Homo sapiens: one gene and its partner. The protein of the gene in region 1 interacts with the protein of each later gene in a pairwise test. Each region holds a gene or a part of one and is shown on either strand. Other genes may lie near its edges.

Evidence for each region.
Region 2: the proteins of DNAJC1 (region 1) and MT1H interact in a two-hybrid assay, tested with the Homo sapiens proteins (one study listed by IntAct).

Annotation. Positions count from the first base shown.
Region 1 is NC_000010.11:21,881,479-21,885,506, reverse strand, and holds part of DNAJC1 (dnaJ homolog subfamily C member 1 precursor), read left to right. Parts: intron 1-3,067; coding exon 3,068-3,225; intron 3,226-4,028. UniProt on the Homo sapiens protein: May modulate protein synthesis.
Region 2 is NC_000016.10:56,668,611-56,671,629, forward strand, and holds MT1H (metallothionein-1H), read left to right. Parts: upstream 1-1,203; 5' UTR 1,204-1,274; coding exon 1,275-1,302; intron 1,303-1,895; coding exon 1,896-1,961; intron 1,962-2,287; coding exon 2,288-2,379; 3' UTR 2,380-2,519; downstream 2,520-3,019. UniProt on the Homo sapiens protein: Metallothioneins have a high content of cysteine residues that bind various heavy metals; these proteins are transcriptionally regulated by both heavy metals and glucocorticoids.

The DNA of each region.
Region 1 (4,028 bases):
CTGTAGAGATCTATCAGATCCATTTGGTTCACTGTTTAGTTTGGGTCCTGAATATCTTTGTTAATTTTCTGCCTCAGTGATCTGTCTAATACTGTCAATGGAGTGTTGAAGTCTTCAACTATTAATGTGGGTGAGTCTGTGTCTCTTTTTAGGTCTCTAAGAACTCGCTTTATGAATCTGGGTCCTCCTGTGTTGGGTGCATATATATTTAGGATAGTTAAGTCTTGTTGAATTGAACCCTTTGCCATTATGTATTGCCCTTTTTTTGTGTTTTTTAATCTTTAAATTAGGATTGCAACCCCTGCTTTTTTCTGTTTTCCATTTGCTTGGTAGTTTTCCCTTCATTTCTTTATTTTGAGGCTAAGGGCATCGTTACTTGTGAGATGGGTCTCTTGAAGACAGCATGCCATTGAGTCTTGTTTTTTTATCCAGCTTGCCACTCTGTGACTTTTAAGTGGGGCATTTAGCACATTGACATTCAGGGTTAGTATTGATATGTGTGGATTTGATCCTGTCATTGTATTGTTAGCTGGTTATAATGTTGGCTTGTTTGTGTGGTTGATTTATAGTGACACTGGTCTGTGTATTTTTGTATTAGCTTATAGCAGTATTTCATTTCTGTATTTAGTGCCCCTTTATAAATGCTTATTTAAAAAGACATCACTTGCAGTTGTGATGAAACACCCCAGAAATAAATACAAACAATTGAATTTATTTGCTTTTTAAAAAAATAACTGATTCTCTATATGTAGCCCAAATTACTTCTGCTATTGCTCTACTTCAATGGTGATTTCATACTTCTCATTGTAAAAGCATCATCAATAATTATTCAGTCATTTCTCCTAATAGTGTTTACTGTGTTAATAGTTTCATCTCTCTATGAAGAAATAGTAAATAGTCATACACACACAAATACATACATACCCACATACAGTTATATTTGAGTACTTTTGTTTCTGGGAGAATTGCTGGGGAAAAGGCTGTATATGTTAATTTTAATGGATATGTTTAGACTGCTTTCCAGAAAGGCTCTAATAGAATAATACATTTCCTCCACCAATTTAGAAGTAGCCTTTTCCCTGCCAACAGTACATCTGAATTAGATTTTAAATTTGTACCCATATGATTGGTATAAAATTATATCTTGGTATTACTTAATTTGTATTTCTTTAACCTTTAGAGTGTATGAGCCTCTTTTCTTATTTGTTAGCCACGTGGGCACTCAATTGTGGATTGCCCATTTATGACCTTTTGCCTATATTTTTCTATTGGGTGGTTGTCCATTTATAAAATCTGTTTATAGCAATCTTCTGTTTATACTCTGAATTGGATACATCCTTTCCAAATCTATTATTTGTCTCTTGATTTGTTTACTCTTTTATCTTTTTTGTAACAGCATCTGGGTTTTCATTCTTATTTAGATGTCCCCTTCCTTTAAATAGTACAAGTAGATTTTAAGATTTCTTTTTGCAAAATTTTTATTGTTTTGGCTTTTAAAGTCAACTCTCTTCTCTATCTGGAATTTATTTGTGTATACAGTGTAAGAGTTTTCTTTTAAATGGATACTCAGTTGTGTAAGCATTACTTAATAAATTGTTTTCCCACTAAATTGAAATATAGACAATCCTAGACTTATAATGATTTGACTTACAATTTTTTGACTTTATGATAGTGCAAAAACAATACTGTACTTTGAATTTGGAATCTTTTCCTGGACTAGCAATATGCGGTAGGATACTCCCTCATAATGCTGGGTAACAGCAGCAAACTGCAGCTTCCACTTAGCCATATGATCATGAGGATTAAAACTGATCCTCTACAGTGTACTGTGTCACTATGTTATTTTGCCCAACTATAAGCTAATGTAAATGTTCTGAGTACACTTAAGGTAGACTAGGCTAAGCCATGAAGTTAGTTTTATTAAATGCATTTTCTAATTAAGGATGTTTTCAATATATGATAGGTTTATCAGGATGTAATCCCATAATAAGTCAACAAGCATTGGTATTTACAGATTCTCTATTCTCTTCTAGGAATTTGTCTATTCCTATGCCAGTATATACTGATTTTGTTACATTGGCAGTATAGTACATGCAAATACACACATACACACGTACACATGGGGTGGTGAAAATACTCTTATGAGGCTGAGTTTGACTATAGTAATTAAGAATGGAGTTGCTTCTCAATGTCAAGTCTCCAGTTAAAATGGTGTGTGTGTGTGTGTGTGTGTGTGTGTGTGTGTGTGTGTGTGTTTGAGATAGAATCTCACTCTGTCACCCAGGCTGGAATGCAGTGGTGTGATCTTGGCTAACCCCACCCTCCACCTCCTGGGCTCAAGTGAGTCTCATGCCTCAGCTTCCCAAGTAGTTGGGATTACATGCATGTACCACCACACGCAGCTAATTTTTGCATTTTTAGTAGAAGAAGGGTTTTGCCATTTTGCCCAGGCTGGTCTCGAACTCCTGGCCTCCAGTGATGCACCTGCCTTGGCCTCCCAAAATGCTGGGATTAGAGCCGTGAACCACTGCTCCTAGGCCTAAAATGGGATTTAATAAAGAGCCCAATGGATGGCCATCGATTCATAACTACTCTTGATGTTGCCAGATCATATTTCACCTTTGTAAAATATTGAAAAATAAATGTATACCATTTAGTGAGAGCCAGGTTTTTTTTATAGATGAGAAAGTTGATACTGTTCTAAGTGTTAATTTATTTGCCCAGTATTATTTACTTATTACATGGTAAAGTTAGGGTTACAATATTAAATTGAAGCTCTTTTTATTGTGCCAAAATGAAATATTTTATGAAAAGTACTTTGAAAACAAAGGTGTATGCAAATTGATATGATGGCTATCTCATGATCATCTCCACAATAGTAGCAACTCTGAGTTTTATTTAGAAACAATGCAATGGTTTATGTACAATAAAAGTTATAGCCAATTATTTATAACAGAACAATTATATTTTGATGTTTTCTTTCAGGATATGGTCTATGAATAAAATGTTAGAAATTAATTTTATTCTTTAAAAATCTCAATAATTGGTTCTTTTAAACATTTTTTAGAACAGAAGAAAGTTAAAAAACCAAAACCTGAATTTCCTGTATACACACCTTTAGAAACTACATATATTCAGTCTTATGATCATGGAACTTCCATAGAAGAAATTGAGGAACAAATGGATGATTGGTTGGAAAACAGGAACCGAACACAGAAAAAACAGGTAAATAAGCTTTATAAAACTTGTTTTGAGTAAAACATGTACAGAAAAGCACATAAAATACAGGGTTAGCTCACGATATAGTGCTTTGTTTTATTGCACTTCACAAATACTATTGTTTTGTTTTGTTTGAGACAGAGTCTCGCTCTGTCACCCAGGCTGGAGTGCAGTGGCGCAATCTCAGCTCACTGCAAGCTCTGCTTCCCGGGTTCATGCCATTCGCCTGCCTTAGCTTCCCAAGTAGCTGGGACTACAGGTGCCCACCACCACGCCTGGCTAATTTTTTGTGTTTTTAGTAGAGACAGGGTTTCACCGTGTTAGCCAGGATGGTTTTGATCTTCTGACCTCATGATCTGCCCCCCTCGGCCTCCCAAAGTGCTGGGATTACAGGTGTGAGCCACCGTGCCTGGCCGGTTTTTTTTTTTTTTTTTTTTTTTTTTACAAATTGAGGGTTTGTGGCAGCCCTGAATTGAGCAAGTTTACGGGCACCATTTTTCCAAAAGCATCTCCTTCCTTTGTGTCTCTATATAACATTTTGGTAATTCTTGTGGTATTTCAAACTTTTCATTACTATAACATCTGGTATGGTCATCTGTGATCAGTGACCTCTGACGTTACTGTTATAATTATTTGGGGTACCGTGAAGTGCACACATGTAAGACAGCAAACTTAATTGGTAAATATTATGTATATTCTGGCTGCTCTACTAATCAATCATCCTCTAGTCTCTTTCCGTCTCCTCTGGTCTCCCTACTCCCTAAGGCACAGCAGTATTGAAATTAGGTCAATTAATAACCCTACCATGG
Region 2 (3,019 bases), on another chromosome or scaffold:
GTGCTCAGTAACACGGAAGAAACAGTGATCTGCCTCTCTCTTCTATTCTCCACTCTTGAGGAGCTGAATGGGCCCATTTGTCCAGGTCCTCCTTTGCATAAATCTCTCCAGGGTCTCCCCACAGCCTAGCCGGGTACCCCACTACAGGATGGCAGTTTGGAAAGTGTGGCAAGTCCCTAGAAGAGGGATCATTGAAGGTGATATGAAGATCCTGCATTAAATTAGAAAGCAAGAGCGCTGGTTATTTTTCCTTCCATATTCCTATTACTCTATGTTACACGGGTCTGTGTTTGGCCCTGTTTAATCACTTTCTGTCTTTGAACCCTCACAGCAACCCTAAAGGGACATGAGTCCTTTTCACGAACCCGTATTCCTAATCTGGACAATGACGAGGAGTTCAAGCCACTAGCCCAGGGTCAGGGAGCTGGGAAGTGGCACTGCTTGGTGTGAATCCTGTCAGCTTCCCTAGGTAGAGAGGTCAGTGATGAAGCTTCTCTATGGCCTAGGTATGTTTATCTCTTCACTGCTTGAAATCTTTCAACAAAACCAAGCATTACAGTCAGTCCTGGAAGCAAAACAGAGACATAGAGGGATATGAATAAGTATACTTTGATGGGAGGGAGGCAGGGTCCTGTGTCTTCCGTGTTGCTGTGCACAGGAGAAACGTGGCCGAAGAACTGAGGTGGGGACGGGGACAGGAACAGGCAATGCCAGAGATCTGAAGGTCGCATCCTCGGCATGTCCCTTGCACACTACTCCCTCGCTGTGCTCTCTGCTCCCACCAATCCAGACAATTGAACAAGAGACTGGGGTTGCACTGGGACTCCAGGAAAGCCTTAGCTGTTGACAGGGGGTGGGCAGGCCCCGGGGTGTGGGGCGCAGGTCAGGATCTCGGGGCACGCGGAACGCCAAAGGGCGGGAGTAGCAGGTAATCTCAGGGAACTGGGCAGGCCCGGCAGGGTGAAACAAGCAGCTCACCCGGGTGCACAGCCCCTCCCGCGGGAGCCGCTGCGAAAGGGCCGTCCCCGCGGTGTGCACCGACCTGCGCTCAGGGTACTTTGCGCCCGACCCGTCTGCTGCGCACAGCCCAGCCCAGGACCGCGGGCGGCTCGGACTCAGTGGGTCGGGTGCAAGGGTGGGGCAGGGTCTCTGCACCCGGCTCCCTCCCCTGACTAGAAAAGGAGCTGCCAACTGTTGCGCTCCACCACGCCCTCCACGTGTTCCACTGCCTCTTCTCTTCTCGCTTGGGAACTCCAGTCTCACCTCGGCTTGCAATGGACCCCAACTGCTCCTGCGAGGCTGGTAAGGAACGCCCGGGTTCTGTGCCTTAGGATGCCAAATTCCCAGACACCATAGAGAGTGTCCCTGGGTTTGAGGAGGTCATATTTTGCGATCTGAGCTGAAGAGGACTTCTTTACTTCCTCCGCTGCTTTCCTCTTGGCCAAGCTCCTGAGAGCATGTCCCTCTTCCCTGTGCCTCTATGTCAGAGTTGAGGGTCCTAAGGCTCAAGGCTGTCCTGCTCCACATCACCCCGTTGGTCACGAGGCTGCTGGCTGAGCCCCAATTCTCTAACCAGGCTCTGAGCAGCCGGATTGGATGGGAGGCATTGGATAGGTGGGGACATTGCCTCTTCAGGGTTCAGCACAGAAAGTCGAAGTCGCAGTCTTCCCGGGCTGTGCCTGGAGCCTGGGACTTACCTTTGGAATACAAACGGAGGGTGCTTGGTTTTCCCAGCATGAATGGAGAGGAGATGGGTCTTCTCTTCTTCTGCTGAGTGGGAAAGGAGCTCTGACGGCTGGCCCTGAACAGAGAAGGGGGAAGTGGACACTCATTGACCCACTGCTGTAACTTCTGCATCTCACTCACAACACACTGGCTTTTTCTATTCCTTGCAGGTGGCTCCTGCGCCTGCGCCGGCTCCTGCAAGTGCAAAAAGTGCAAATGCACCTCCTGCAAGAAGAGTGAGTGCGGGGCCATCTCCAGGAATCTGGGGCTGTGGCTAAGGTTGGGAGGGAACCCAAGGCTGGCCCTGAGTGCCTGCTTCCTTTGTCCCCCTAGGCCGTCACTGCCTTTCCAGTCTTCTGCTCTGTCCAGGGCTCCTGTGGGGCTGGGCAGTCTCTCATAGGAAGACTCACCCCAATATCCACCAGTCGTCTCCTGAAAAAGCTGTGCCATCCTGAACTAAGGATCCTCTGGGGCTGGAGTCTGAGCTTGAGCCAGGCCTGCTGTTGGGAGAGGGAGCTCCCTGGTCAAGTCTGCTGTGACTTCTCTCTCCCTTTTTCCCCAGGCTGCTGCTCCTGTTGCCCCCTGGGCTGTGCCAAGTGTGCCCAGGGCTGCATCTGCAAAGGGGCGTCAGAGAAGTGCAGCTGCTGTGCCTGATGTCGGGACAGCCCTGCTGTCAGATGAAAACAGAATGACACGTAAAATCCAGGATTTTTTTTTTCTACAACTCCGACTCATTTGCTACATTCCTTTTTTTCTGTGAAATATGTGAATAATAATTAAACACTTAGACTTGATTCCCGTTCTGGTTCCTGTTGTGTTTTTTGGAATGAGGGACTGGGGTGGGAGATTGAACTGGGAGTTTAAAGACTGGGCTCTGGATGGAAATGTGAGTGCTGAACAGTCTGAGCGCCTTCAGGTGAGCCCCATTACATCACTGACCTCCATCTTCTGTAAAAGGCACCTGCACTGTCCTGGCTCATATGGGGATGGGGACATACGCGATCAGCTCCACTCATATTAAATGTGGTACAGAGACTTCTCCATTCCTCATGTTTATTCTCAGGTTTCCCTGCCCAAGTTCAGTTCCTCAGCAGATTTTAGGCTTGAAATTGGCCACAGGAGGTGGATTCCAATGCCTAAATTACTTGAATCCTCCATGGGGCTTCTCAAACTCCACGGTGAAGGGACAGTTTTCATTTTCTATCCATCCCAGACCTAAACCTTTGTAAATAAAGTAATATTAATTATGAAGATAATGAAGCACAAAATATAGAACCCATGTTTTACATTTTAC